Regions from separate parts of the Homo sapiens genome. Here region 2 is linked to region 1. The links come from fine-mapping of genetic effects on gene expression. A gene starts in region 1. The other region holds a variant in brackets. All regions are shown on one strand. Distances are from middle to middle.

Region 1 (2,913 bases):
CACCTTGTCCAATGATGAAGGAGAACGTGTATCAGTTCTGCATTGTGAAATTCTCAGTATGAGAGCGTGTAGTGGCTAAGAAAAGCAGTGGGCGAATTAGGAAACAAAGAGAAAAGCCAGCGACATCACCAGTTCTGGCCTCCTTCCCACCGGAGGAAAGGGGAGAAGGCGGGTAGTCATCAATTCCAGGTCCAGCCTAAGTTCTGGGTCCCCGGCCCCAGCGAGAGCCTCGCCTCGCCTCGCGCGCCTGCGCGGAGCGGGCTGGCTTCCTGAACGGCCCTCGCCTCTTCACCACCAGGGCCGTCCACCAGAAGTTTCTAAACGGGTGAGAGGCGACAACGCAGTGCAGCTGGGTTAAAGGAAGGAGGCTGGTTTATCCTCCGCACTTACTTGGTACTCGATCTCCAGCGAGGCCTTCAGGGGCATGGGCTGGTAGAAGCACTCCTTCTGGCCGGCGGGAAGGGTAAAGGTGAAGTCGCTATCGAGGGAAGGTGTGAAGCCGGCCGCCCCAGGCAGCAGCACCGGAGGCAGAGCGGCCAGAAGGAGCACGGGGAAGGGCAGCCAGATCTTGTCGCCCATCCCTGCTGGGGCGATCCCGGGCTGAAAGAGGCGTCAGGTACTGTTGTCTCCGCTCCGCGTTTCCTCTCTGGACTCCTCGTGGTTGACAGGGAAATCTGGAGTCTGAAGAAACTCCAGGTGGCGGCCGCGGCGGCGGCGAACACTCCCTCCGAAAGAGAAGCGCAGTTCTCCAAAGGGTAGGGACTCTGGGCGGGGCTAGCAGTCCTATTCCGCAACCGCCTCAGTCTCGGCCCCCTCAGGCCAGGCGTGAGCGCCGCCCGCCTCTCCCCCTGACGGCCTCCGGTTCCCATGGCTTCCCCCACCAATGGGCATCATGGCGGTAATTGTGGGAAATGTAGTCCCGGGCGGGCTCCGCTAGTGGGCTCGGGCGCGCTCGCCGACCACGATCCCCGGCAAGCCCCGCGCCTTCGGCGGCGCCTCACGCAGTCTGCGCCGGGGCGGGGCAGTGACCGGGTAGGCGCGTCCCAACGGCTCCCGCGGCGGTTCGAATTCTGTGCTGCCGGGGTTCGCTGGTTCTCCGAGTTGTGTCCGAGGCTTCCACGCGCAGGGGCCCGGGAAAGGGTCAGAGGCTTCCTAACGCAGACTCGAGTGCGAAGCGCGCAGTCGCCGGGTGGGTCTCTCCCCAGCGACGATTTGGGTGGTGAGCGACTGCGCCTTGGCGTGGGGAAACCGGCTTACCTGGGGGAGTTCTGTTCCTTTCCCTCCCGGCACCTTGGATGCGCTGGGACTGGTCCTCGTGGTTGCTGAGCATGCTGCTCTGAACGGTTGTATTTTATTTGATGAAAAATAGGAGGCCGGGCGCAGTGGCTTACGCCTGTTACCTCAGCACTTTGGGATGTCGAGGCGGAAGGATTGCTTGAGCCCAGGAGTTCGAGGCCAGCCTTGGCAATATGGCGAGCCACTGTCTCTATAAAATTAAAAAAAAAAAAAAAAAGAGGAAACTGTCACTTCCGTCCCCCACCCCCGCCCCCGCTTCTTTCAGACGGATGTAAGATTAGCTGTGTCAAGCGATCTTGAGACAGGAGACTACTACATAAAGTTATGACTTCTTTCCAAAATGAGGAATCTTTTTCGACTACAGCCCATTGTATCACATACATAGGGTATAAAAGAACACTTGTCCTTCGTTTGATGGGTGTGCGTGTGCAAACCTACAAACACATTGTTAATTAGGGCCGAAAGATGATGTTGTTAAGGTCGGTGAGTAGGATGATGTGCTTTTCTAGGTATGCATAGTCAGTGAAGATAGCCTTTTTTGGGTAACTACTGTAAATTGAAGTTAAGGACATTCATTTGACAGTAAATGTCCCACTAGGAAAATGAAAACATTTTAGTATCAAATATATTCATTGCTACTGCAGAAGAGTTAGGGAGTTCTTTCTTTTTTTTTTGAGACCGAGTCTCACTCTGTCGCCCAGGCTGGAGTGCAGTGGCGCGATCTCGGCTCACTGCAACCTCCGCCTCCCAGGTTCAAGCAATTCTCTGCCTCAGCCTCCCGAGTAGCTGAGATTACAGGCGCTCGCCACCACCCCCGGCTAATTTTTTTGTATTTTTAGTAGATACGGGGTTTCACCATCTTGGCCAGGTTGGTCTTTAACTTTTGACCTCGTGATCCACCCGCCTTGACCTCCCAAAGTGCTGGGATTACCGGCGTGAGCCACCGCGCCCGGACTGGGAGTTATTTCTTGCATGGCAATACACAGATGTTGAACTAAAACCTGATTTAAGATGAAATATATAGTACCAAATGGTATTATAGAATTTGCCCAATTTTCTCTACCCTTTTCTCCTTCACCATCCTACAGAGAGCTAGAGATGTTGAATAGGTAAAGCAGGATGGGGACCTGATTTATTGACTTGTCTGCGAGAGTCTTGTCACTTAAGCAGAAGCAAATTTGTGGAAACAAAAAAGGGAAAGAGGATAGAACCAGTTTGTCTATTAAGATTACATAGTATCTCATTTAATTTCCTGCCACTTTCTTTCCATAAGGTGGGAGTTTTCTTTTTAATCTTCCTCCCTACATCTGAGAATTTTTGAGTGGGGAATAAATGTAACATACCATTCTAACTGGATGAGGGAAGGAAGGACAGTTTAGTATTCGTTAATTCATTCAAAATATTGAGCTTCTCTAAGTACATTGCGGTCCTGAACGTAATGCACAGGACTTTTAACCTTTTGGAACTTGGGATGGGATCAGAATGCTAAGAAGGGCGTTGAAGGAGATGCTACAGTGAAAAAGGTAAATGGGATCTGAAAGAGGAATGTAATTTTAAGATTGCGCAGAAAGCTCTGTAGTAGTGGAGATTATAAAGCTTTAGTTTTTTATTGTATTA
Region 2 (2,913 bases), 960 kb after region 1:
AACAGAGAGCCAAATCATGAGTGAACTCCCATTCACAATTGCTTCAAAAAGAATAAAATACCTAGGAATCCAACTTACAAGGGACGTGAAGGACCTCTTCAAGGAGAACTACAAACCACTGCTCAATGAAATAAAAGAGGATACAAACAAATGGAAGAACATTCCACGCTCATGGGCAGGAAGAATCAATATCATGAAAACGGCCATACTGCCCGAGGTAATTTATAGATTCAATGCCATCCCCATCAAGTTACCAATGACTTTCTTCACAGAATTGGAAAAAACTACTTTAAAGTTCATATGGAACCAAAAAAGAGCCCGCATTGCCAAGTCAATCCTAAGCCAAAAGAACAAAGCTGGAGGCATCATGCCAGCTGACTTCAAACTATACTACAAGGCTACAGTAACCAAAACAGCATGATACTGTTTTGGTACCAAAGCAGAGATATAGACCAATGGAACAGAACAGAGCCCTCAGAAATAACACCACACATCTACAACTATCTGATCTTTGACAAACCTGACAAAAACAAGAAATGGGGAAAGGATTCCCTATTTAACAAATGGTGCTGGGAAAACTGGCTAGCCATATGTAGAAAGCTGAAACTGGATCCCTTCCTTACACCTTATACAAAAATTAACTCAGGATGGATTAAAGACTTAAATGTAGTACCTAAAACCATAAAAACCCTAGAAGGAAACCTAGGCAATATCATTCAGGCCATAGGCATGGGCAAGGACTTCATGTCTAAAACACCAAAAGCAATGACAACAAAAGCCAAAATAGACAAAGAGGATCTAATTAAACTAAAGAGTTTCTGCACAGCCAAAGAAACTACCATCAGAGCGAACATGCAACCTACAGAATGGGAGAAAATTTTTGCAATCTACTCTTCTGACAAAGGGCTAATATACAGAATCTACAATGAATTCAAACAAATTTACAAGAAAAAAACAAACAACCCCATCAAAAAGTAGGCGAAGGGTGTGAACAGACACTTCTCAAAAGAAGACATTTATGCAGCCAAAAGACACATGAAAAGATGCTCATCATCACTGGTCATCAGAGAAATGCAAGTCAAAACCACAGTGAGATACCATCTCACACCAGTTAGAATGGCGATCATTGAAGTCAGGAAACAACAGGTCCTGGAGAGGATGTGGAGAAACAGGAATGCTTTTACACTGTTGGTGGGACTGTGAACTAGTTCAACCATTGTGGAAGTCAGTATGGTGATTCCTCAGGGATCTAGAACTAGAAATACCATTTGACGCAGCCATCCCATTACTGGGTATATACCCAAAGGATTATAAAACATGCTGCTTTAAAGACGCATGCACATGTATGTTTATTGTGGCACTATTCACAACAGCAAAGACTTGGAACCAACCCAAATGTCCAACAATGATAGACTGGATTAAGAAAATGTGGCACATATACACCATGGAATACTATGCAGCCATAAAAAATGAGTTCATGTACTTTGTAGGGACATGGATGAAGCTGGAAACCATCATTCTCAGCAAACTATCGCAAGGACAAAAACCAAACACCGCATGTTCTCACTCACAGGTGGGAATTGAACAGTGGGAACACATGGACACAGGAAGGGGAACATCACACACCAGGGCCTGTCGTC[G/A]GGTGGGGGAAGGGGGGAGGGATAGCATTAGGAGATATACCTAATGTTGGATGATGAGTTAATGGGTGCAGCAAGCAACATGGCACAGGTATACATATGTAACAAATCTGCACGTTGTGCACATGTACCCTAAAACTTAAAGTATAATTAAAATAAATAAATTAATTAACTAAAAAAAAAAAGATTTTGGTGGTCAATATGGTTTGGCTGTGTCTCCACCCAAATCTCATCTTGAACTGTAGTTCCCATAATCCCCATGTGTTGTGGGAGGGACCCAGTGGGAGGTAATTTAATCATAGGGGTGGTTACCCTCGTGCTGTTCTCATGATAGTGAGTTTTCACGAGATCTGATGGTTTTATAAGGGGCTTTTTCCCCTTTTGCTTTGGTACTTCTCTTGCCTGCCACCGTGTAAGACGTGTTTTTGCTTCTCCTGTGCCTTCCACCATGATTGTGAGGCCTCCCCAGCCATGTGGAACTGTGAGTCCATTAAAACTTTTCCTTTATAAATTACCCAGTCTCGGGTATGTCTTTATCAGCAGCGTAAGAACAGACTAATACAGTGGTTAAGAACATAAGCTTTAGAGTCAGACACACTTGGTATTTATTTATTTATTTTAGAGACAAGATCTTACTCTGTCACCCAGGCTGGAGTGCAGTGGTACAATCATGGCTCACAGTACCCCTGACCTCCTGGGCTCATGTGATCCTCCCATCTCAGCCAAGACTACAGGCACATGCCACTGCGCCTAAGTCTCACTATGTTGCCCAGGCTGGCCTCTGAACTTAAGCGATCCTCCTGCTTTGGCCCCCCAAAGTGCTTGGATTACAGATGTGAACCACTCCACCAGGCGCTACACCTATGTTTTGAACCCTATTCTACTGCTTATGAGGTATACAAAATGGGGAAAGCTTTTAAAAATTCCATTTTTATCAGTTTTATTATACGTAAAGTGAGAATAATAATATCTGTTGCATAGAATTGTTAATAGTGGTTGTTGAGAACCCCTACATCAGAGGGCTGTGATTAAATGAGATTATATGAAAGGAAGCACTTATCACGGTGCTCAGTCTAAAGGAAGTGTTAAATGGTGGTATTATTACTTTGATAAGAAATGTTGACTGTTGATGAATTTACTACTTCATGTCTTGAAATCATTGATGACATGATTGAACTTTTAAGATGGAGGTCCATCTTCTTACATATAAAAATATATCTGTGATGCTGGGCACGGTGGCTCACGCCTATAATCCCAGCACTTTGGGAGGCCAAGG

Alleles and levels. Alleles are on the strand shown, and positions count from the first base shown. SD is a standard deviation of normalised expression in the study named.
As copies of G replace A in region 2, the expression in neutrophils of the gene that starts at base 1,061 in region 1 goes up (large effect, 1.4 SD a copy in BLUEPRINT).

The links. PIP is the estimated chance that this variant, and not a neighbour inherited with it, causes the effect.
Region 2: its variant is fine-mapped to the expression of CCDC18 in neutrophils (BLUEPRINT, PIP 0.95).

The regions. Positions count from the first base shown.
Region 1 is chr1:93,179,664-93,182,576 of GRCh38, forward strand. It overlaps CCDC18 (coiled-coil domain containing 18), which reads left to right and starts at 1,061. Exons shown (of 29, transcript NM_001378204.1): 1 at 1,061-1,189. It overlaps TMED5 (transmembrane p24 trafficking protein 5), which reads right to left and starts at 750. Exons shown (of 4, transcript NM_016040.5): 1 at 391-750. The coding sequence starts at 579. RefSeq lists enhancers at 131-280, 1,151-1,360 and a silencer at 811-1,090.
Region 2 is chr1:94,138,457-94,141,369 of GRCh38, forward strand. No RefSeq gene overlaps it. Among named protein-coding and RNA genes, the nearest start is that of ABCA4, 19 kb to the left of the region's middle. The variant G/A (reference allele first, on the strand shown) is at 1,641.